Homo sapiens: one gene and its partners. The protein of the gene in region 2 purifies or fractionates together with the protein of the main gene of each other region. This does not show direct contact. Each region holds a gene or a part of one and is shown on either strand. Other genes may lie near its edges. The genes, in order: RCC1L, GOLPH3, TIPRL, TENM3, GMPPA, TSPAN2 and VBP1.

Region 1 (3,500 bases), on a different chromosome or scaffold from region 2:
GATTACAGGCGTCCGCCACCGCACTTGGCTAATTTTTTGTATTTTTAGTAGAGATGGGGTTTCTTCATGTTGGCCAGGCTGGTTTCAAACTCCTGACCTCAAGTGATCCGCCCACCTCGGCCTCTAAAAGTGCTGGAATTACAGGCGTGACCCACCGCGCCCGGTGAGTTCTTTTCATTTTAGTGTTTAAAAACACTTCCCTCTAGTTCCTTGTATGTTGTTGGAGGGCCTTAACACCACTCTCAACTTTGGCCATGTGTTAAAATCACCTAGGATTTTGTTTGGCTTTACTTTCATGACCAGGCCTGACTCGACCTAAGATTTGACCTTGAGAGTTACCCCAACAGTTACTGTGTGAGCGGAGGGGACGGGCCATCAGTTGGGGTGACAGGGAAAGGGCTGCACAGTGCTTGTCATGACCGCATCCCTTGCTTCTTCCCAATTTGTTCCTGGCTGTAGTGAAAGTCACAGAGTCCACAGGATGCAGGACTTCGATGGCCAGGTGGTCCAGGTAAGAGAGATGGGCCGAGAGCTGCTTGTTGTGTTCCTGGGGTGCTTTTGAAAAGTTGAGATTTGGGTAGGGTGATGGCAAATTTGTTAGGGGGATTTTCTGAATTAAATTATTTTAGTAAAAATTGTAGCCTACTTACTATAGGCCAGGATTTATGCTAGATTCTAGGGATACAAAGTTTAATAAGATTTTGGGGCCGGGTGTGGTGGCTATACCTGTAATGCCAGCACTTTGGGAGGCCGAGACAGGTGGATCACCTGAAGTCAGGAGTTCCAGACCACCCTGGCCAACATGGTGAAACCCCGTCTTTACTAAAAATACAAAAATTAGCCGGGTGTGGTGGCACATGCCTGTAATCCCAGCTACTCAGGAGGCTGAGGCACAGGAATTGCTTGAACCTGGGAGGTGGAGGCTGCAATGAGCTGAGAGATTGCACCACTGCACTCCAGCCTGGATGACAGAGCAAGACTCTGTCTCAAAAAAAAACAGATTTTTGGGGATGACACTCTAGTGAGTGAACAAGTTAAAAAGCTAACTGAGGCCGGATGTGGTGGCTCACACCTGTAACGTCAGCCTCTGGGGAGGCTGAGGCAAAAGTATCACAGCACTTGCTGTATTCATGCATATGTGCATTGAAATATTTATGATAGGTACCTACCATGAGCCAGGCACTATTCTGGGGATGAGAATAAAATGGAGAGCAAAATACAGCTGGCTTAGAACACCACAGCACTAATCATACTGTGATACGGCTGGCTTTTTGGTTTTATTTGGAAATTTTTTAGAGGCAGGGTCTCATTCTGTTGCCTAGGCTGGAATGCAGTGGCACGATCATAGCTCACTGCAGCCTTGAACTCTTGGGCTCAAGTGATCTTGCCTCAGCCCCCTGTGTAGCTGGGTCTACAGGTGTGCATCACCATCCTCGGCTAATTATTTTAAAGAGACAGATTCTCACTGTGCTGGCCAGGCTGGTCTCAAACTCTTGGCCTCAAGCCATCCTCCCGCCTTGGCTGCCCAAACTGTTGGGATTATGGGTTAAGCCACCATGTCAGGCCTCCTTCACCTATTAGACTGAGTGACTTTGTGCAAGTTACCAGACATCTCCAAGATAGTTTCTTTTTCTTTTTTTTTATTTTAGTGCAGTGGCACAATCTCAGCTCAGAGCAACCTCTGCCTCCTGGGTTCAAGCGATTCTCGTGCCTCAGACTCCCGAGTTGCTGGGATTACAGGCATGTGCCACCATACCTGGCTAATTTTTGTATTTTTAGTAGAGATGGGGTTTCACCATGTTGGCCAGGCTGGTCTTGAACTCCTGACCTCAAGTGATCCACCTGCCTTGGCCTCTCAACGTGTTGGGATTACAGGAGTGAGTCACTGTGCCCAGCTGAGATTCAGTTTCTTACTAGGTGGTTTTGGTTATTGACTTAACACAATGCCTGGTGTAAAAATTGTTCAATAGATGGTGCTTTTCTTTAGGCAGTTAGAAAAATGAGTTTGGAACTGAGGAGAGTTGTTGAGACCAGAGATCACAGTGCAGAGGCCACAGTTAAGCATTGAGAATGGCTCCCATCTCCCAGGGTAGCATGAGGAGTGAGGAGAGAGGAGGGCAGGAGACACACCCTGGAGAGAGATCCCAACAGCAAAGGGTCTGAAGTAGAGGCTGAGTGTGTGAGCAAGGCTGGAAGCTGTGAAAGTAGAAGAGAGGGCTGGGAGGAGAAGGGTTATGGAGAAGGGGTGGTTCTTTGGAGATGGCGTGGGATGGATGGCAGAGCTCTTGGATTTGCCCCTTTGGAGATCTGCATTTTACTTTAACAAGAGCAGTTTCAATGCAGTGGGAGACTGGTAGATTGAGAAGGAGTAAGATGAGCATGGAGCAGTCTGCCTGGACCATGCTCCAGGTGCCCAGGAGCGGCAGGCGATGGTGCTGGTCCTTCTTTGGATGAGGACACCAGGGTTCTAAGTATTTCCTCTCATCCCCCTTACCTCTGTTTGTCTGCTAGGTCGCCTGTGGTCAGGATCATAGTCTGTTCCTGACGGATAAAGGAGAAGTCTATTCTTGTGGATGGGGTGCTGATGGGCAAACAGGTAGAGTTCTTTTCATGCACTGGGGTCGTGAAACTTCTCAGCCCGTGTCATGTGGAGCTGTGAGCTGTAGGGCATTTATGGGCTAGAACCCTTCTTCCTTAATTCAGCTCTTACCTCTTATCACTTTCTGAGGAACACTATTCTTGGCTCCATCGCCCAAGCTGGAGTGCAGTGGCGCGATCACATCTCACTGCAGTCTCAAACTCCCAGGCTCAGGTGATCCTCCCACCACAGTCTCCAGAGTAGCTGGGACAACAGGTGTGAGCCACCAAGCCCAGCTAATTTTTTGTAACAACAGGGTTTCGCCATGTTGCCCAGGCTGGTCTTGAACTCCTGACCTTAAGCAGTCTGCCTGCTGTGGCCTCTTGGTGGGCTGGGATTCCAGGCAGGAGCCACTGTGCCCTGCTGTAATACTTTTTTTTTGCATCCCTTCCATTCCCCTCAGCCCTGGCTCCCATAGAAATGAACTGAGAGAAGGCTGGGTGCAGTGGCTCACACCTGTAATCCCAGCACTTTGGGAGGCCGAGGTGGGCGGATCACTTGAGGTCAGGAGTTTGAGACCAGCTTGGCCACCATGGCGAAACCCCATCTCTACTAAAAATACAAAAATTAGCTGGGTGTGGTGGCACACGGCTGTAATCCCAGCTACTAGGAAGGCTGAGGCAGGAGAATGGCTTGAACCCGGGAGGCGGAGGTTGCTGTGAGCCAAGATCGCGCCATTGCACTCCAGCCTGGACAACAGAGCAAGACTCTGTCTCAAAAACAAACAAACACAAACTGCAGAGAAAAGGACAGGCAGGACCTGCCCAAAGGCAAATGTCATTATTGGCACTTGGTATGGGGGTAACCCCTGGCCAGCAGCCCAAGGCAGAGCACTGAACTGTAGACTCTTGCCTTCATCCAG
Region 2 (2,552 bases):
GAGAAAAACATGGCAGATTTTCTTCTGTTTTTCTTGGGGCAAAATCAGATTTTACTGTTTAATAGTACAAAATTTTTGCAAAATTAGCAGATAATACTCATCATTTCTAACTTCTGAAATCTTTTGTTTAGGTGAGACATGGAATCCATTAAAATTGCATTATCAGTTAAGAAATGTACGGGAACGATTAGCTAAAAACCTGGTGGAAAAGGGTGTATTGACAACAGAGAAACAGAACTTCCTACTTTTTGACATGACAACACATCCCCTCACCAATAACAACATTAAGCAGCGCCTCATCAAGAAAGTACAGGAAGCCGTTCTTGACAAATGGGTGAATGACCCTCACCGCATGGACAGGCGCTTGCTGGCCCTCATTTACCTGGCTCATGCCTCGGACGTCCTGGAGAATGCTTTTGCTCCTCTTCTGGACGAGCAGTATGATTTGGCTACCAAGAGAGTGCGGCAGCTTCTCGACTTAGACCCTGAAGTGGAATGTCTGAAGGCCAACACCAATGAGGTTCTGTGGGCGGTGGTGGCGGCGTTCACCAAGTAACTCTGCTCGGGGTGAACCATTCTCCTTTCTCTCAAGTAAACCAGTAGTTTTTCTTCTGTTGACTTCTGGTTTTCTGTAATTTGTACTTTCCCACACTATAATTGGCTTCTGTTTTACAAAATGGTGGGTGGCTTTTTCTTTTTTGTACGTGTACAGGATTCTGCTGGTACGAGAGGCCTTCCTCTTTCTGTTTTTAAAAAAAGTTTTACTGCCATATTGGCATTCCATTCCCTGTTGCCATCCTCACTGTTACCTGTTTTGGGTTTCTGGTCTACTTTGACTTTCAAAGTACCTCCAGCCTCCTCATACGCACAGCTTTTGGATGACCTCAGCTTGAGTTTCTCCATATGTGCATGTACATCTAGCATTCTGCCTACAGTTCAGACAGAAGTCACAAAAAGGCCTTCAACTCACCAAAGGTAAATATCTGTATCTATTAGGACATTTTTTACATAGACTTCAGTTGAGATGTATACTTAGCAAAATTATTTTTAAATTGAAACAGCACAGTAAATACTTAATATAAAATGTCCCTTGGATTTTGCTTCCCATGTAAATCTATTGTATTATTACACTTGTTATAATTTTAACTATAAAGGTCCAATTGTTTCACAGAGCCAGTTTGGGATGGGCTGCATTCCATTTATGCTGTATATAGTTTGAATTATATATAAATTACCCCTTCTTCTGGCCACCCCTGCTCCCATCTTAGTATTTTGCAAGATCTAATCAGTTGTACACCTGGTGCCCCTCGCTTGCTTCAATCATGGTTATTTGATGGCAAAATCGACCTCTTGTCGCTGAAGGAGAGAGAAAAGATGTGTGTCTGATTGGTCCTGGGATTTTTTGAGCTGTGCCATTTATGGTACTCTTTGCCTATGCATCCCCTTGTTAGATTTTTTTTAAATTTTATCTTACTGTTTTTATAATTTCTATTGGGAAGAGGCTTGTGACCAGTACCAATCTTGAGTTTCTTTTTCTGTCCACAAGTAAATTAATATCTGCTCTGAAATGTCATTTATCTACTCACACATTCTTGGGGAAAAAAATCAAATGTCAGTCCTAGCAGATGTTGCATGTAAATTGGTAGCAAGTAATGATTACAACCCAGAGGATTAAGAATTTTGTAACAGAAAGCTCTATGTTTTAATTTTTTATATACAATTAGGATAATTAGCATTGTCAGACTATAAACCTTTGCTTTTTAAAGTTTATTTTTACTATTTCTTTATCACTTTATTGTATCATCACCATTGGTTTCATAATGTAAATACTATATGTTGAACAAATTAAATGTCAAAATTTTTTATTACCATAGTCCATGTTAATAGTGGGGCTTTCAGGTGTTTAGAGATTTTTTTTGTTGTTGTTAACATTCATTGCAAAAGTACTAGATGGTGTATAACTCTAGAGTTGAATTTTAAGGGATTCCCTAATATGTATACTATCTTTTTATCTGAAGTAATAAATAAACAATGATCTTGAAAGTGCCTGAATCAGAGCAAGCATGTCATTTGTGTTTTTGTATTCTCATTTAGTTTTCTTTCAAATGAAATGTTACTTACTGTAGCATTGTAATATTTTAATGCAGGGCTTGGGTTTCTTAAAGGGCCAGATAGTAGATATTTTAGGCTTTGTGAGCCGCCAGCTGTGTCAGTTGCAACTACTGAACTTTACTGAATGAAAACTGTTATAGATAATACAAATAAATAGGTTAGACTGTGTTCCAATAAAACTTTATTTGCAAAAACGGGGCTGGTCAAGGCCCCAGTTTTAATGCATGGAAAAAAGACAGATTTTTCTATCCATTGGAGTAACCTTCTTTACCTTCAAAAATGATACTGCTGGTGGTAACTACATGTAGGAACTATTAAAGTGTCTTCCCATAAAGTAGATATTGGGAAACTGATACCAGTATACTGGAATTTCTTATCGAGTGAAAAGTTCCTGTTTTTCACTTGAGAAGATGTTAGAGGTGAGGTAATAGATTTCTGAG
Region 3 (3,500 bases), on a different chromosome or scaffold from region 2:
GCTGAGGCACGAGAATCACTTGAACTTGGGAGGTAGAGGTTGCAGTACGCTGAGATCGTGCCACTGTGCTCCAGCCTGGATGACAGAGTAAGACTCCGTCCCCCACCCTCCGCCAAAAAAAAAAAAATGCCTTTTTTTATATGACAAAAGGAAGACTTACCCTCACCAATCCCAAATTTTTCTGTGATGCATTATCATAGATTGTAAAAACCACTAAGGTGCTAAATAAATTGGTTGGGTAAAATATTGGATTAAAGAAGCTCTTCTAATGAATATTTAAGGCACCTTAAAACCACAGGAGCTTCCTGTCTTCTCTCCTTGTAACTAGTTATACCTGTTTTTAAGTGGGAAGCTTGATGATGTTAGAAATAGGGCATTTTCAGGCCGGGCGCGGTGACTCACGCCTGTAATCCCAGCATTTTGGGAGACCGAGGCAGGTGGATCACCTGAGGTCAGGAGTTCGAGACCAGCCTGGCCAACATGGTGAAACCCTGTTTCTACTAAAAATACAAAAATTAGCCGGGCATGGTGGCACGTGCCTGTAATCCCAGCTCCTAGGAAGGCTGAAACAGGAGGATTGCTTGAATCTGGGAGGCGGAAGTTGCAGTGAGCCAAGATCGTGCCATTGCACTCCAACCTGGGCAACAGAGCGAGACTCCGTCTCAAAAAAAAAAGAGGGCATTTTGGCCTATGTTTAAGAAACTCTATATTTAGAACACTGAAGGACTGTAAATTAGTAACAGTGATTCTTTTACATATATGAGTGGAATATTTTATAGGACTGCCACATTTTTCCAGATATATTGGTTAGAATCCACAGACTCACATATTATTTCACATTTGGTATGCATTATTCAAGTTAAAACTTATTTTATGGAATCTTATGGAATATATATTCCAATTACAGTTTATTGTATCTAATCTTTTAAGTATTTAATATTTTCTATCTCCTAATAACAAAGAATAAATTTTACTTAAAATTATGATGAAAGTTAACATTGTTAGTCCTGAAGACCATTGTTAACATTGTGCAGTCCTGAAGACCTGCACCTCAAAGTTAGATCACTGATATGTGCACACAGAAATACACGTTTAGATGTAATAAATATACAATGTGTGTCCAGTTTTTTTCTTACTATTTTATCATAAGCATTTTTTCATATTATTATAGTCTCTCTTTAAACATTTGTAATGGTTCCATAATATTTCATCATATGGATATACTTTGGTTTGCATAATCATTTGTTGCTTTATAATGAAACATTCAGAGTATTTCTTTTTCATGATTATAAGTAAAGCCATTATAAGTATTAATGTGTATAATATTTTTCTGTACTTGGAATTATTCTTTAGTACAGGTATTCTAAAACTGATACTTTGGGTCATAAGTGTGTAAATTATGTTAAATTCCTGTGATTTTTTTTTTTTTTTGCTTGATTGTTGCCCCAGGGTGAAATGTAAATTGACACAATCCTTCTGAAAGTCTGTGTAGGCAAGTGCTGAGTTCCCTCATCAGTGTCAGGTGCTTTTGCTTTTTTCATCACCACGTTTTGAAACTTTTAACAATTGAGAATTTTAATGGAAAAATTATTTTCCTACAAGAGACAGTATCTTTAATTGCTTTGCTATCTTTTCTTCATACCCTCATGATATATATTATAGTAATATCTGTGTGCTATATATTATAGTAGTATAATAAGCTATTATATTACGTATTTGTATATTTATCTTATTTAGCCCACTACTTAGTACAGTGCCATATGATGATGAAAGAATGGATGATGAAAGCATTTTATAGACCTTGCAAATATATCATATTGATTAAATCATGTGCTGTGTAACTCATTCAGCAAGTAGGAAGAATTCTGTTGGGATGGAAAAGAAACAAAAATGCCAACAGCGATATAAAATTATCTCACCCGACTTTTGGTTACGTATAGATTAGCCGATGAATTACATATGCCATCTCTCCCTGAAATGATGTTTGGAGACAACGTTTTAAGAATCCAGCATGGGTCTGGCTTTGGAATTGAGTTCAATGCTACAGATGCGTTAAGATGTGTAAACAACTACCAAGGAATGCTTAAAGTGGCCTGTGCTGAAGAGTGGCAAGAAAGCAGGTGAGAATCCGGTCAATTAGGTTAAACAAAAAAGGTAATTAGGTTAAACAAAAGAGAAAAGACTTGAAAAAATATTCAGTAATGATACGTGTGTGTTGTTAGAATGAAGGGCTGGTATTATTAAACTTGAGAGTTGTATCATTCTAGAATTCGTTTTTCTCAGACATAAAAATGGAAGTTAATTACCCCACTGCTTGAATACTTGTTAAAGTGAATTACAACTGAGCTGAGCTATGTACGTTTTCGATTTTTCAGTGTTCCTTACTGAAGAGGCAGTAGGCTATACTTAATGTTCCTGTTTTTAAGAAAAAATGTTTACTTATGATATGCTTAATAAATACCCTATTTGAGAAGCATTGAAATTAAGACAACATGTTTTTCTTTGATAGTCAAATCAGCAATTATTTACTTTGTGCCTAATATGTACTAAGTACCTTAGATGATACAAATAAGTATAAACCTTTAAACCATGTCCTCAGGCTGTATACAGACTAATTGAAAAGACTACATCAGTACATGACAAGTTAAATAATAAATGCAGAAAAACTGTAAGAAAAACCTTGTACTGGTGAATTATAACAAGTGTATATATTTAATAGGATATGTTATTATAGAATATAATTTGATGTGATATATAAATACAGATAATCTCTATTCTGCATCACTGAATCTGATCCTTCTCATTTTGGTATTTGAGGACGGAGGGTGAACACTCCAAAGAGGTTATTAAACCATATGATTGGACCTATACAACAGATTATAAGGGAACCTTACTTGGAGAATCTCTTAAGTTAAAGGTAAATCTTACTTTTTTCTTTCATGAGTCATTGATTGTCTTGGACAGTCTGAGCATTAGAACTTTCTAGTAACGGGTTATTTTTTGCAACTATTTTTATCGTCCTTGTTTTCTGTTGTGGCATTCCTCAGAACCTAATGTGAGGGGGTTTTGCTTGTTGACTTATCAGTAGAAAATAAAAGACGGCATTAGTGGAAAAATTTATTTTTAAAAGTGTAGTTGGTGGCAACGGCAGACGGCCTTGTTGTTATCATTATCACTATCAAGAAACATTAAAATGTGTTTCGGGCCTTGGTAATGTATTACATGATTTAGACAGAACCTGCTAGCTTGTAGCTCACAAGTTTATAGATGAACAAATATATGAGCAAAAAGAACTTCTGGTTAGACAAAGTAGGTTTATGCCCTGTCTGCCCTGAGTATGAACCTGAAATGACTTTAGGAAGTTACTTAATTTGAGTCTCAGTTTTATCAATAAATTGGGTAAACAGAAATATCTACCTCAAAGCAGAGTTTTGATGTGAAATAATTTATGGGAAGCTCTCAATAAATTCTAAAGCTCTATATTAGTATTAAGTCCTGTG
Region 4 (3,500 bases), on a different chromosome or scaffold from region 2:
TATGTTTCCCCCACTTTCAACTAAACTGAAACCCTACCAATGCCGCCACCATCTCCTGAAGATCTTTTTTTTTTTTTTTTTTTTTTTTTTGAGACGGAGTCTCACTCTGTCACCCAGGCTGGAGTGCAGTGGCACCATCTCAGCTCACTGCAACCTCCACCTCCCGGGTTCATGCCATTCTTCTGCCTCAGCCTCCCAACTAGCTGGCACTATAGGCACCTGCCACCACGCCTGGCGAATTTTTTGTATTTTTAGTAGAGACAGGGTTTCACCGTGTTAGCCAGGATGGTCTTGATCTCCTGACCTCGTGATCCGCCTGCCTCGGCCTCCCAAAGTGCTGGGATTACAGGTGTGAGCCACCGCGCCCGGCCTCCTGAAGATCTTAGAATCAGAGCAGCTCTCCTGCCCAGTCTCATCTGATGGCAGCACTTTTCTTGTGCTCTTTTTTGCTTCGTTGGCAATCTAGCCTGCGATCACTTTGAAAACAGTGCAAAGGAAGTGCTTTCCATTAACTTCCAATTTATTCCTTTCCTATTGCGATACTAAAATGAGCAAAAGGAATGCTAAGAACAGAATTTTAATGTAATTCAATTGAAAAGGTTTGTTCCTCTGACAAAATCATGCTGCTGGCTAACATTCATTTTATTAAAAGGGAATCTGTCAAAAAAGAAAAGCAATTCAAGCTACAGGAGAACTAAGCTTTATGTATAAGACACATTCCAGAAAAGCTATACAGAAAATATTTGTATATTGAGTCATTTTTTCTACTGACTTTTATGATAATTTCAGAGGTGTGCTCCTACAGAAAGAAGTACCTTTGCTTCACCGTATCATTGTGAAAACCACACTAAGGAACTCAGGATTCATTTCAAAGACTATTTTGCGTTTGTCAACATGCCATCTCTGCATATCTCATTTCCCCTCATGGCTTGTACAACCGAGTCAAGTGAACAAGCAATTGAGAATGCATTTATACATGCCCTAACATACTCAACAGCTGATTCTCCTTTCATTCTCAGTGACTCCCAAGATGTGACTGTTCAGACAGCACAGTGCCCGGGCCACCACTCCATGCTATCTCTTGGAACACCCTGGCTGAATGAGCCTCCTACCTCTTCACATGCTTTCAGGCAACAAACTGCAATTCCTGACTTGCATTTAGTTGTAAGGTTCTTTGAGGCACAGTGTAGCTTCTCTGGTAACGATTACAAAAACTTAAGCCCTTCTACGTAATCAGCAAAGTTCACTGTAAATGTTTTTGAAGTTTTTCTTCAATGCAAGTTCCTGAGACAGTCAGCTTTATCAGGTGGGCAAACCTAGAGCCAAAGGCTTTATGCCCCAAACCACAGCTGCGGGATGCTTCTCAGAAGGTTTGCTAAGATGCTAGGTCTATTGGAAGCAAGATGTTAATCCTTAAGTACAGGTAAATTTACCATGAAGCCAACTGAAACTTAAGCTTTGGGCTTCTCCCTTACACGAGTCCCTTCCCTTTCCAAGGCCCTACATCTTGTATCTTGCAATTTTGTCTTCTTTCTCAGAAAGAGGTATCTTTTTTTTTTTGAGGCGGAGTCTCGCTCTGTCGCCCAGAGACTGGAGTGCAGTGGCGCGATCTCGGCTCACTGCAAGCTGCGCCTCCCGGGTTCACGCCATTCTCCTGCCTCAGCCTCCCGAGTAGCTGGGACTACAGGCGCCCGCCACCACGCCCGGCTATTTTTTTTGTATTTTTAGTAGAGACGGGGGTTTCACCGTGTTATCCAGGATGGTCTCGATCTTCTGACCTCGTGATCCGCCCGCCTCGGCCTCCCAAAGTGCTGGGATTACAGGCGTGAGCCACTGCGCCCGGCCATTTTTTTTTCTTTAGAGATACGTTCTGGCTCTGTCACTCAGCCTGGAGTGCAGTGGCACAATCATAGCTCACTGTGGCCTCGAAGTCCTGGGCTCAAGCAATCCTCCCGTCTCAGCCTCCCCAGGAGCTGAGACTACGGGAATGAGCCACCGTGCCCAGCCGGGATCCAAAAATTACAGAAGCTCTAGACTCTCAAAAACATGGAATCCTCCAGCTCTTAAGATTATATTGTTATTATAGATGATATTATTATATCACAGTATTTTATAATCAGAGTAGAATTTTCATATACTTACTCAAAAAACGTTGTCCATCCAGTTTCATCACTTTTAGTGGCTAAAAGGCCACTATTGCCATGGTAAGTAAACAAAACTAATTCCAGTCCTTGAGCAGTCATGCTTTTCAAACATCCATTTGTTCCTATTGTCAACCATATCACTTGGTTATCAGGAGACACCACTCGAACTGGCATGCGATTTGGGTCCCGTCTAATTCTAAGGGTGTTGCCATTGCTGTCTGTCACAGCAGTAATATCATTGTCATTGCTGTAGCTAAAATTGTAAAGGTAATCACCAGTGACTAAACTTACAGTATATTGGTGAGTACCATTGATGTCAAAGATGTAGAGTTCTTGATCAGTTGGAGACGCAACTTCATAGAAGTTCATAGAGTTAAGTAAAGGCTTATTCTTTGACACAGCCCGGATCCGGATATTCCCTAGATCTGCAATATACAGTGTACCATCTGGAGAAGCAGCCAGGGAGGATGGGGCACTGAGTTTGGCATCCTTGGCGTAGCCATCTCCACTCTGGTAACAGTCACAGTTGGCATCATTTTTGCAGTCACACTCTGAAGGTATTCCGGCCACTAAGGAGATTTCTCCATCTGTTGTGACCTGCCTTATCCGGTTAATTTTCTTCTCATCAGTTTCAGTAATGTACAGGACCCCACTGTAGGACACAGCAATGGCAGTGGCTGATTCCAGTGTTGTCTGCACCGCGTGCTTCCCCACAGGATATTCCACTCCGGGAACCTGACAGTGCATGGGCCGTCCAGCAGCAATGCGAACTTGACGATTTTCAGTGATCTGTAAAACTACATTATTATCCAGGACATAAATGGAGTTATCCATAGGGTTAATGGCTAGGTCAGTGGGCCATTCCAGACGTACCTTAATAAAAAAAGAAATGGCCTGGTTAGTAAGTTACTGCACTACAGTTAATTCGCCAGAAGAGTAAATTAGACCATTCAGGGAAATTGGCATTAATCTGAGATAAACTGTCTGATAATAGTTTTTTCAATAGCCTCAGTAAAATAAACCAAAAAGTAATGAATGAAGATAGATACAGGAAATAACACTTTATTTTAAAATTCAGCTCACAGAAAGATTTGCTAGTTACAGGCAAATAGCAAATAGGCCTCTACGTAGTGAGTCAACAGATATCGATGAGCTATGAACACACATGTTCCTTATGGCAGCAATAACCACCAAATGTTGGGGCTTTCTAGGTTATGAATAGATTAGTATTCTATTGTGTTTTCAATCAGGCCAACAGTAAAGTTTCTATTTCTAAATATAAGTCCCTTGGCACTAATCATAGTGGGTTCTCTCTACTACTTAAGGAGCTCATGCAATCAAAAGATTAGAGATTTC
Region 5 (4,092 bases), on a different chromosome or scaffold from region 2:
CCTTCTAGTAGGCGAGGATGAACTCCAGCAAATGCTGACTCAACCCACTTCCAAGAACTCAGAGGCCTAGGGCATCCCCACCCCCCCATATACGAGTGTGTGCACAAACACCTGACTGGAAGGTTAAACTCCTGCTGGGCGGCTTCTAGGAACTGGGTGAGGGGCTCATCAGGTTGGTAGAAGCCAATGAGCAGAATCTCCTGCATTCCAGGGACCTGAGGACAAGGGAAGAGGCTGGGATGAAGAATATCTAATAGGAGGGGATGTTGGGGAAATCCTTGGTGCTGGCCCAAAGTCCAGAAACCAGTTTCAGTCTCAGCTGTGGGGCCCCAGGGCACTCACCACTCTGGGCTATTTTCTCCTCTGGACAATGAGGAATTTGGAGGAAGTCGGAGGCCTGATCTTTTTTCGTTTTGTTTTATTTTTGTGAAAAAGGGTCTCGCTCTGTTGCCCAGGCTGGAGTGCAGTGGCATGATTTTGGCTCACTGCAGCCTCCACGTCCTGGGCTCAAGCGATCCTCCCACCTCAGCCTCCTGAGTATTGAAGACTACAGCCATGTCACCACCTGCCTCAGCCTCTAGAGCAGCTAGGACTACAGCCAGGCCATCACATCTAGCTAATTTTTAAACTTTTTGTAGAGAAGGGGTCTCTTGATGTTGCCAAAGCTAGGCTAGAACTCCTGGCCTCAAGCGATCCTCCTGACTCGGCCTCAAAAAGCGTTGGGATTACAGACATGAGCTACCATGCCAGGCCTGATCTTTCAATCAATTATTACCCCCACCAACCTGAACTGGGACTCACTCTAAGAAAGACTTTGCCTACCAAGCTGCATTAATCCATTTCCACCCCGCCCCCTCCCCCCCGGCCATTTTTATTATCTGTCAGCCTAAGCTTGAGATCAGCATGAGGTAAGGGTACCATTTATCAAGGGTCTGCGTTGTACTAGGCATTTTACAAATATCATTTCTAAGCTTCACCACCCAACAAGGTAGGTCTAATCACCCCCATTTTACACATAAGGAAACTGAGTGTCAGAGAGGGTGTGTTATTTGTTGCAGACCTCACAGCAGGCAGAGACTGAATTCAAACCAAAACCTTGCCTGGCTCAATACGAAAAGCAATAAAGAAATGAGCAACAATGTGATCAAGGATATGAATTTGTGCTTGGTTATCATTAAGAGTCTCCATGCTACGGCTTTACATTGTCTCCAAGATCCTTGCCTGATCTCACATTCCACACTTTAAAAATAGGAGTGAAATCTGAGCAGGAAGAGGCCAGATGAGAAACTAGATTAGGGGAAGACAGCAGGGCAGCTGCACAGCATAACTTGAGGGGGCGCCATTCACATTGTCATCTGTGAATGATGGTCCTTGGAGTTATGCCTGGTGGGAAGAGTTCATGGTTGGGAAAGGGGGAAACAGCATGAAGATAAGCAGGAAGTGAGGTGAGAGAGGGGAGCCCCTGAGGTTACCTGGGCACAGGCTTCAATATGGTGTTGGATCATAGGGACCCCTGCCACAGGAAACAATGGTTTGGGCACCTCAAAAGACAAAGGTCTGAAGCGAGTTCCTGGGAGAGGAGAGAGGAGAACATTTCGGCCTCCTGCCTTCCTCTGCCCCCATCCCGCCTACCACTCCAGCCCAACCTCCTCCCCCCATTCCCCTGGCACCTCACCCTTTTGAGGGCCTCCAATCAGGATCACCGCTTTGAGCATAATGGTGACTGCTACCTAAACTTCAAATTCCAACAGAGAAATCAAGCTCAGATCTCCTACCCCAACCAAGCCCCAAAACCCAAATAGCAACACTTAGCCCTCTCCCAAGATGTAAACCCAAAGCTCAATATAGTCTCTGCCTGGACCCAACACCTCACAAATCCCACACATCTCAAATCCCAGCAGAGAAATCAAGCTCAGATCTCACACCCCAACCAAACCCCAAACCCCAAATAGCAGCACTTAGCCCTCCCCCAAGATGTAAACCCAAAGCTCAATATAGTCCCTGCCTGGACAGAACCTCACAAATCCCACACATCTCAAATCCCAACCCAGATTCCAGTCGGCCTTCAAACCTCACAGTGATTCCTCCCAAATTCTGAAATTCACACCCCACAATTTGATCTCTAAAAGACTTCCCTCTGGCCATGAACAAATTCTGCAAATTCAGAAACCTGGCAGAGACTCCCTTCTCAGACCCAAACCTCAAAATACTGAAGCCTCAAATTCCCAAAGTGTTGCGTCTTCATTCTAGATATTAAGCCCTGAACCCCAATAGTGAACCCTGAATATTGGACAGCAAACCCTGAGTGAGCCTCAGATATTTAACTTAAATCCTGAACGTAATCCCCAAGTACTGAACTAACACTGATCTGAATTTGAAGAACCCCTAATCCCAGCAAAAATCCTCTATATGCTAAACATGAATCCTAAAACTAACCTCTGTATGTTGAACCCCAAATCAAAAGACAGGTTCCCTTGGCATCTCAAACACTGAACCTATTGACCCCCCTCCAGTCCTAATACGGACGACTGGGTCTAAATCTCTGGATTCGGAGGATTGATTGATTGCTGACCCTCTGAACCCCACAACTGACTCTGTCCAATAAACCCTGGCCTCTCATTGCCAGGGATTGTGGGACCAACACAGGGGCGGGCGCACCGAGGGCCAGCCAGGACCTCGGAGCCCGCTCTCCGTCTAGAGGGTGTCCCCTGCCCCTTACCCCTGCCGCCACCCCTCCACCAGCTCCCTTTACCACTAGCTCCCTTCACTCCAGCTCTGCCGCCCGCTACTGCAAGCTCCTTCCGCGCACGTGTCTTCTCGCAAGTCGCGAGAACTCATTCGCAGGGTCTGCCGGGAATTGTAGTCTGACCCTTTACCCGCTTTCTAACTTTATGGGAGAGGAAAGAGGTGCTGAAGTCCAGGGGTGTGACCAAGGGATCGCGGGGCGGGGTTAAATGCGAAGAAGGGTGGGGCCTGAGAAGCCCAGCCTGGAACTTAAGACTGGGACCCGAGCTGTTGGGGAATCGGCCTCGGGGCAGCAGCCGAAGTGAGGAACTGGGTCCCACAGGAAAACGGGACTAAGGACAGCAGGGGTGTGTGGCCAGCCCTGGAAGGGGCGGGGCCAGGGGCAAACAGCCACAAGGGGCTGGGGCTGGAGGCGCTCAAAAGCGGAGAAGGCGGAGTCCCAGGCCCAGCCGGCGGTACCGCTGGGAAGTGAGGGCGCCTTGGACGGCGAGGGCAACTCTTATCAGTTTGACTGTCTGAAATGCAGCACGGCGCTAGGCGCTCTCCAGACCTCCCTGTGACTCCAACAGGCTGTGACCTTGGCGTGGGGGTCTGGAATACGTGTGGGCGCTGGTGCGGGGGAGAGGGAATGGCGACGCGGAAGAGCAGGACAGACGCGGAGGGTCAGAGAGCAGCTTTATTAAGCAAGCTGGTGGAGGGCTGTGGGTCCCACCACCCCCGGGCTCGGCGCCAGGGCGGAAGGTCCGGGGGTGCCGTTCAGGCCACGTCGACGCGAGCGAAGCTCTGGTCCATGCCCAGGCTGTTCTCCACGTACACCTCGTACTTGCCGCTGTCCTGAGGCGTGGCCCGGCGAATGGTCAGCGTCGTGGTGGTGCTGCCGATCTCGAAGAACACCCTGCGGAAGGGCGGCGGGGAGGAGGGCGGAGCCGTGGTCAGTACACGGGCGCACTGGGCGGGGCTCCTTAGCCAGCTCTGTTCCTCGCTGCCCAGTCCCCGCCCCCGTCACTCCAGCCAGATTTCTGGGCTCAGTCCCACCCAGGTTCCAGCCCCAGGCCCTGGCCGTGCCGCAGGTCCCGGCCCTCGCCTGTCATCCTCCTCGATGTCCTCCCCGTCCTTGGTCCAGCCTACGTCGGGCGCAGGCTCTCCCAGGATCTCCGCAGTCAGCGTCACGGTGGTGCCTTTGCGCGCCTTAGTGTTGTCGGGTCCCTTTTGAATCTTCGTCGGGACTAGCGGAAGGAAAGGGGAGCGAAACCCCGTGAAGGACCCGGAGATGAGGCAGGGCATCACCTCACCGGCTAATACCCGGCACTAAATACAGATGCATTTAAACTCGCAGTGTGACGTTGA
Region 6 (3,500 bases), on a different chromosome or scaffold from region 2:
AATAGAAGAATGCCAAAGAGTCTTCTTGTCCGCTATTATTTCCCCTACAATTTTGTAGAGCCCATGGAACCCTATCTGTGGGCACCATTCCATAAACTACTGTCAATGCTTATTTTAAAAAATGGGTACTATAACTTTCTGGTTCTCTCCTCAATTCCATCCTAAGTCAGACTAGGATCTGTAAGTGCTAAATTCAATAAGATATGAATGATCAGTTGTTTTGAAAAGGGAGGGGCAGAAGCAGGTAAGGGCATGGCCAGGAACAGGATTTCAAGCTTCTGGATGACAGGACTCAGTACCAGTGTGTAGCACGGGCGACACCCAATGCACTTTTAGTTAGCTGATTACATTGTGCAACTCTCACTTTACAGAGAAAAGAACTAACGAAGAAACCTGGGGGTGCCGACTCAAGATAGGCTCACTATGGGCATTTCCCCTTTATCATTGCCATAAGGTTGGATGTAATCCCTACCCATCCTGGTTTCAGTGAGACTCCTTCAGTCTCAGCCTACTGCCGACACGAGTCAGGGGTGAATGCTTCTAGGCTGCTCATTTGCTGAGATTGTGAAACTCTCCATTATGCAGCACACGCTCAGACCTGCCTCAGGACTGTCCTTTGGGGAGCTGCAGAACTGCAGCCAGGCTATCCCCAGAGCAGGTGGGGAGGACCTGAGAAATGTCCCTTGATTTGGAGGGCCTCAGCAGAGTATTTCCAGCCACTTCTCCACCCCTCTGTGCTCTAAATACAGAAAAGGGGAAGGCGCTTGTGTGTCCCCTGATAACTGCAAATTCACTGATTTCCTCACAATTCCCACAGCCCTTGCCTTAGTTTAGGCCATGAATTAATCTACATAGAGGGCTAGAGACTAAGTGCCATCTTAGCATTAGCTATTATCATCCAACCCCTGGACAATGGAAATCATCCTTTAACCCGCCTTCCAAATCCAATCTTGCCTCCCTCCAACCTTTCCTCTATCCTCTACCACAGGTTCTTCCAACTCTTGGTGACTCCCCTTTCCTTAAGGGTGAAGCCCACCCTTTCAAAGGGGCATACAAAGATCTCAATGATGTAGATCGAATACTCTCTCCATTACCACCTCTCGCAACTCCTGCCATACCTGTCCGCTGCTATCCATTCTTCCCACACACTCTTCTTTTGTACTTTAGAAGTACAGAGCCACCTGGTGGTGGTCTGGATGCACTACGCTTAATACCATCTATGCCATTGCCTTTGCCTGGTAGATTATGCAGAGAGCTGGCATTTGTTGAGTGTTATATGTCCCAGACACTTTATTTATATTAATTTGTAATACTACTGTATATGTAGTATCCCATTTAATTTTCACGGCAATCCTATAAGGTTTATATATTAACAGACGAGGAAATTGAGGTATAGAAAAATTAAGAAATTTTCCTGCGATCTCAGAGCTTGCAAATGGTGGAGCCTAGAGTTAAATCCAAACCATGTGATGCCAGAGCTCGCCCTATTAATCTCTATGCTCTGCTGCCTCTTCAAATCGTAGGTGAGAGAGATTAACCTGATATGTTGCATTGAATTTGTAACAGTAGAAAGAGACCCAGAACTGAAAATCATTTATCTAGGTTATGGATAGTAGCCTTAAAACGGGAAGTTAATAACAATGACACACTCAAGGTCATAATGAGTTAAAGTTGAAATTTCTATTATATTTTAGAGGACAAACTATTAATATATTTATGAGCTTTGTTCTTAGAAGATGTAATACATTGTGAACAAAGGTCTTTTTTCTTTATGAGAATTCTCTCTTAAGATACTATCACACTTGAAAAGAAATAAGATGCAAAGTTTCAAGGCTTTTTAGAGGGCAAAAAGGGTAAGTTCTAGAACTTTCTCACCGTCAGACCTGCAATTCCAATACCGACAATTCCAATGAGCTGGAGCTTAACACTGATTATGGTCTCAATTTCATCGATGCAATTCTGTTTTGAGGAAAAAAAGTCGGGAATAAAAACTGATTGTATGTGTCAGTCATTATCCTGATCCTATCCTTTCCATCTCTACAGTTCATTCTGTGAGAGTTAATCCATGCCAGCTTCTACTCATGTTTCAACAATTCATCTTTGATAACATCATCCTAATAAGCTTAATGCAAAAATGCAGTTTGGGGAAAAAAATAGAAGCCTCTCCTTTGGGTGAGATTTTCATGTTTAGGCCAGTGGCTTCTTCGGAGCCCTGAAATATAACTGGAGGAAGCTATTTGTCTGGTTCCAAGGAATCTAAAAATTTGGAGCCACTTCTTACTTGTAGCAAATAAGTAAAATACCCTTAAAACAATAACTCTTTGTTTTCATATTGTCATTTACAGTTTAAAATACTTTCTATGTCTTTGACCCAATTTACTATGCAAAGTAGGCATGACCTATTAAGAAACTAAAAAGTCTTAACAGGTTCAAGTTAAACAAAGGAAAGCCAAGAATTAGAAAAGCCAAGTCTTGGAGCTAGAGGACCATTCTCTCCTGTGGTGGCTGGGCTGGGCTGTGCTGGGTGAGTTCCTATCCTTTCATCTGTGCCCATAAGACACCTGTGCAGCATAGATTCAAAGGGCCTTCATGGATGTGGGGAAACTTAGACAGAAAGCCAAATAGATCACCTGTAACTATTATTAGTTTCTCCAACTTCAAACACTCCTATTTGGAGTGCTCTTAAGTAGAGGGATGCTCTCAATCCAACTGTACCCTCAGGTTGTTCAGATCTGTTCACTTGTCACTGGTTGGTTCCTTTGATACCATCTGAGCTATATAAAACCCTTACTTCTCTCTTCGTATTTCCTATCACACTTCATTCATTCAACAAACATTTCTTGAGCATCTACCTTGCATTAGTCACTGGAAGAGGGGTGGTAGATGCAGAGACAATAGGATATGGTTTCTCCTGCTTTCTGGGAATTCACAGTTTAGAGGACACAGATCCACAAGAGATACCTATAATGCATTCTGACAAAAGTTTGAAAACTACTCTTCTAAGGAGTGGCTCCCTTACTTAGTGGAAAAAATGAGAGTCAACCTATAGCAATTCTTTCACTCTTCCTCTCCTTCTCCTATACACTTAGATGCTCCCTTCCTTCAGTGCCAGGCATTGCTGTAGGTAGCAAGCACACTCCTGACTCCTTTTTCTCTGATCAGAGCCAAAGAGGTGCCCTTCTCTGTTGAAAGTTAACCTCATGGCTGGGCGCGGTGGCTCAAGCCTGTAATCCCAGCACTTGGGAGGCCGAGATGCGTGGATCACCTAAGGTCAGGAGATCGAGACCAGCCTGGCCAACATGGTGAAACCCCGTCTCTACTGAAAATAAAAAAATTAGCCGGGCATGGTGGCACCTACCTGTAATCCCAGCTACTAGCGGGGCTGAGGCAGGAGGATCACTTGAACCTGGGAGGTGGAGGTTGCAGTGAGCCGAGATCATGCCACTACACTCCAGCCTGGGCAACAGAGTGAGACTCTGTCTCAAAATAAATAAATAAAT
Region 7 (3,441 bases), on a different chromosome or scaffold from region 2:
TTTGCAGATCTGTATTCCTTCCACAGGGATTTTATGGTGTTTCTAGAAATATAAGTTGTTCTTGGAACATGCTAGTATATGTACAAGTAAACTTTACAAATACGTGAAAAGACCCATGTTAACTTTAAAAAGGTGTTATTGTCTGAATCTTTGTGTCACCCCAAAATTGTTATGTTAAAATCTTAACCCCCAAGGTGATGGTATTAGGAGGTGGGGCTTTTGGGAGGTGAGTAGGTCATAAGGGCAGAGCCCTCATGATGAGATTAGTGCCAAATTAAAGAGGCCCAAGGGAGCTCCTTGCCCCTTCTGCCACATGAGGGCACAGTGAAAAGGTGCCGTTTACGAACCAGGACACAGCCCTTACCAGACACCAAATCTGCCAGCACCTTGATCTTGGACTTCCCAGCCTCCAGAACTGGGAGAGATAAATTTCTGCTGTTTATAAGCCCCCCACTCTGTGGTATTCTGTTATAGCAGCCCAAACATAGTAAGACAAAGAGTAACATGAAAAAAGTGCTCTGCCATAGTTTTAGCATCACTGTTTTAATTTCATGAAATACAAGTACAAAACATTGTATAAGTATACTTTTTACTACATGGAGATGAACTAATACATTTATGTTTTTATCAGAATCTGTATCACCCAGCGCTGGTCAATGTACTAGTAGCTTTCCACAGGGATTTTTTATACTATTCCTATAAGGTTTTATCATGAATAAAAAAGCTCACAACTCTTTTCAGCCATTGCAGATTCACATTTATCTTAATATTCCTGTTCAAGATGCTCTGGAGAACTGTTAAGAACTACAAAATCACCTTAGGCAGAGTTTTGAATGAGTAATTTTATTTCACGTTGGCCAAGATCTCCCTTATGTTGGCATTGCAAAGACACTGCACTTATCTGAGGTTAGAAAAAATGTAGTCTTAATAGCCCTCTTAATGTGTAGCAAGGCAAATTACCATTTCCTAAAATGTCCAGAATATCATAGTAGTTAGTTATTCGTTAAGCAGTAAGTCATGAAACTCCACTTATAGAAGACAATAGCAACAGAGGACCACTAAGTCCTAAATATACCAAAGAAAAACAAGTTTACAAATATTCAAACTGTCTGTCTTCTCTACCTCTAAAATGGTTTAACCACATCAAGTGAGAGTAACATCAGCCAATTAGAAAGGGAAAAAGTAAACTGTGCTAGCGTCCGGCATTCAGCTTCCATAGCATGTCTCACAGTTTTCGGCCATTTCAGCTAAGAGTTTTCTTATGACAGGCAAAAATAATGATTAAAATACCATTAGCTTTGCTGAGAAATGTGGAAAAAAAAATCACAATGTCAAAAATATTTGAAACTAATTTTGTTTTTATAAATAAATAAAATGGTGTTTATCTTTTCTTAAAATTCTTGCTGTTAAAACATTCAAAGTTATGTCAACCTGTAAGGATAAAGGGGTATTTAAGATAACATGTTTGGAAAACTAAACCACATTTTTAATTGCCAGCATTATGCTTTGTTCTTGGTAGAGTCATCCTTGTTTCTTCTTTTTACATCCCAATTATAAACCCTGGCCATATCTGCAAGAATTGTCAAAGAAAATGCAAATGCAATTCTAAAGATAATGCATGCAATGACTAAGTATTCACTCCACTCACACAATGAATCAAAGACACAGAAATGAAACATATACAAATACTGGTAACAAATAGTATTGTAAGACATCCTGCTATAATGTCAATTGTTAGGAAAATACTATAATTAAACTCTATCAAAACTAAGGACTCAAATTAATTGTTAACCCATTGTTTACTATGGTATTAGTCAACTGTCAGCTAGTCAACTATGATATATTTAACAAATATGTACTAGACACTCTCGATAGTTTTAAAGACAGTCCCTCATCCAAGAAATCTGAAAGATCACTCAACCCATATCCTGCCATGTAATATTTATATTATTACAATTATCAATAATTTTATCTCTTACCCTCCCTTTGGCTTAACAAGTTTATTAAGCATCTACTGTATTTTTGACTAGGCACTGTACAAAGCCCTGACCTGAATAAGACAGGTGAAGTTCTTTTCCTCGTGGAGCTTAGACTCCAGTAGAATGTCAATGTAACAGAGACTGTCCACCCTAGCTCCCTCACTTGTCTGCACACCTTCCTTTCCTACCTTTTGCAGTACTAGCAATAACAAATGGCATTTAACTAAGCTTGTAGGACTCATCTTAGAGGATTTCCTCACTTTTGGCTCCTGTACCCATCTAAGTCACTGGATCCTGTTTTTTTCTCACACGTTTAATATCTTTTCCTTTCCACAAGCCACCCGTCCTAGGCCCTCGTCATCTCATAGCTGGATGAAGTTTCCACACTACCCGTCAGATGATGATGACCACTGCACTAGGCCCCAACAGGCCTGCCTTCCCTCAGCCAACCATAAACAACTGCCACATGCTGCACACTGGAAAAGAAGAGAAAGTGCAGCTCCTACATCTGAAGAGCTCACGGTTTGGCAAGGTAAAACTAAGCAGTATGTGTTAAGCAAGCACACAAGAAACACTCTGAGGATCAGAAAATGTTCAGGAAAGCTCTGATGCTTGGACTGAGATATTTAGGGTAAAAGGGTAAAAAAAGAGCACATCCTGTAAATATGGGAAAGTCATTCCAGTTAGGAGGAACAAAGTGTAGAAATGCAAAGGGTGTGGCACAATTGGGGAGTGTGTACAATAACTGACTGGGGTTATCTGGAACCTGGAATGCACTGGGGAAAGGCAAGAAGAGGTCAGTGGCATGAGGTGAGACAAGCTGGGGGCACTTCACAAGAGTGCCTATATGTATATCTTGTAAGTAACAAGGAACCGTTGAAATATTGTAACCAGAGGAATAAAAATGAGTGACCTAGTAAATTCATACTAGAGATAGTGGGAAGGACAGATGGAATGAGAGGAACCTAAAAAGGTTCTGAGTGCAGGTTTTGGAGCCCCAGAACGAGAACAGTAATGGGCAGAGAGATTTATGAGGGAAATTTGATGTGAATCTGGCGACTGATTTATTATTGGTAGTGAGGAAGAGAGAAGTGTGAAAGGTGACTCCCGTGATTTTGTCTTGAGTGACTGTGACAGGAAGTAGGAGGAAAAGACAGGCCAGAGAAGAAAGGCAAAGAGCTTGCCTTCCCCCTTGACCAGAATACCCCACTCCCACCTCTTCTCTCTGCTGATCTTTAAACCCTACGCCGCCTTTAAAAAAGCAGCCTAACTTTTATCTTCTCAACAAAGCCTTCTTTGAACTAAGTCCAGCCTACATCTATCTTTCCCAAAGTTTAAATTGCCTTGGTGTTGCATATGTTAACTTACTTATAGTTTGCTATGAATTATCATTCAGCTGTTTTACATGTACAGTTCTACCAGAGAAAGGCACTGCCACTCTTTTCTAAAATTGATTTTCATG

What was found.
Region 1: the proteins of GOLPH3 (region 2) and RCC1L purify together in Homo sapiens (affinity purification with mass spectrometry; 4 studies listed by BioGRID and IntAct, with this or other methods). This does not show direct contact.
Region 3: the proteins of GOLPH3 (region 2) and TIPRL fractionate together in Homo sapiens (co-fractionation; one large-scale study listed by BioGRID). This does not show direct contact.
Region 4: the proteins of GOLPH3 (region 2) and TENM3 purify together in Homo sapiens (co-immunoprecipitation; one large-scale study listed by IntAct). This does not show direct contact.
Region 5: the proteins of GOLPH3 (region 2) and GMPPA purify together in Homo sapiens (affinity purification with mass spectrometry; 4 studies listed by BioGRID and IntAct, with this or other methods). This does not show direct contact.
Region 6: the proteins of GOLPH3 (region 2) and TSPAN2 purify together in Homo sapiens (co-immunoprecipitation; one large-scale study listed by IntAct). This does not show direct contact.
Region 7: the proteins of GOLPH3 (region 2) and VBP1 fractionate together in Homo sapiens (co-fractionation; one large-scale study listed by BioGRID). This does not show direct contact.

The regions. Positions count from the first base shown.
Region 1 is NC_000007.14:75,060,303-75,063,802, reverse strand, and holds part of RCC1L (RCC1-like G exchanging factor-like protein), read left to right. Parts: intron 1-459; coding exon 460-511; intron 512-2,511; coding exon 2,512-2,596; intron 2,597-3,500. UniProt on the Homo sapiens protein: Guanine nucleotide exchange factor (GEF) for mitochondrial dynamin-related GTPase OPA1. Activates OPA1, by exchanging bound GDP for free GTP, and drives OPA1 and MFN1-dependent mitochondrial fusion. Plays an essential role in mitochondrial ribosome biogenesis.
Region 2 is NC_000005.10:32,124,216-32,126,767, reverse strand, and holds the end of GOLPH3 (Golgi phosphoprotein 3), read left to right. Parts: intron 1-131; coding exon 132-556; 3' UTR 557-2,052; downstream 2,053-2,552. UniProt on the Homo sapiens protein: Phosphatidylinositol-4-phosphate-binding protein that links Golgi membranes to the cytoskeleton and may participate in the tensile force required for vesicle budding from the Golgi.
Region 3 is NC_000001.11:168,181,962-168,185,461, forward strand, and holds part of TIPRL (TIP41-like protein), read left to right. Parts: intron 1-1,940; coding exon 1,941-2,120; intron 2,121-2,817; coding exon 2,818-2,917; intron 2,918-3,500. UniProt on the Homo sapiens protein: May be a allosteric regulator of serine/threonine-protein phosphatase 2A (PP2A). Isoform 1 inhibits catalytic activity of the PP2A(D) core complex in vitro. The PP2A(C):TIPRL complex does not show phosphatase activity.
Region 4 is NC_000004.12:182,753,902-182,757,401, reverse strand, and holds part of TENM3 (teneurin-3), read right to left. Parts: intron 3,018-3,500; coding exon 2,143-3,017; intron 1-2,142.
Region 5 is NC_000002.12:219,497,599-219,501,690, reverse strand, and holds the start of GMPPA (mannose-1-phosphate guanylyltransferase regulatory subunit alpha), read right to left. Parts: upstream 2,801-4,092; 5' UTR 2,753-2,800; exon of another isoform or gene 2,437-2,752; intron 1,736-2,436; 5' UTR 1,716-1,735; coding exon 1,676-1,715; intron 1,571-1,675; coding exon 1,473-1,570; intron 216-1,472; coding exon 112-215; intron 1-111. Other genes in the region: SPEGNB (SPEG neighbor protein), read right to left, coding at 3,502-3,640, 3,830-3,971. UniProt on the Homo sapiens protein: Regulatory subunit of the GMPPA-GMPPB mannose-1-phosphate guanylyltransferase complex; reduces the catalytic activity of GMPPB when part of the complex. Mediates allosteric feedback inhibition of GMPPB catalytic activity upon binding GDP-alpha-D-mannose.
Region 6 is NC_000001.11:115,051,504-115,055,003, forward strand, and holds part of TSPAN2 (tetraspanin-2), read right to left. Parts: intron 1,960-3,500; coding exon 1,876-1,959; intron 1-1,875. UniProt on the Homo sapiens protein: May play a role in signalling in oligodendrocytes in the early stages of their terminal differentiation into myelin-forming glia and may also function in stabilizing the mature sheath.
Region 7 is NC_000023.11:155,236,901-155,240,341, reverse strand, and holds the end of VBP1 (prefoldin subunit 3), read right to left. Parts: intron 1,571-3,441; coding exon 1,500-1,570; 3' UTR 501-1,499; downstream 1-500. UniProt on the Homo sapiens protein: Binds specifically to cytosolic chaperonin (c-CPN) and transfers target proteins to it. Binds to nascent polypeptide chain and promotes folding in an environment in which there are many competing pathways for nonnative proteins.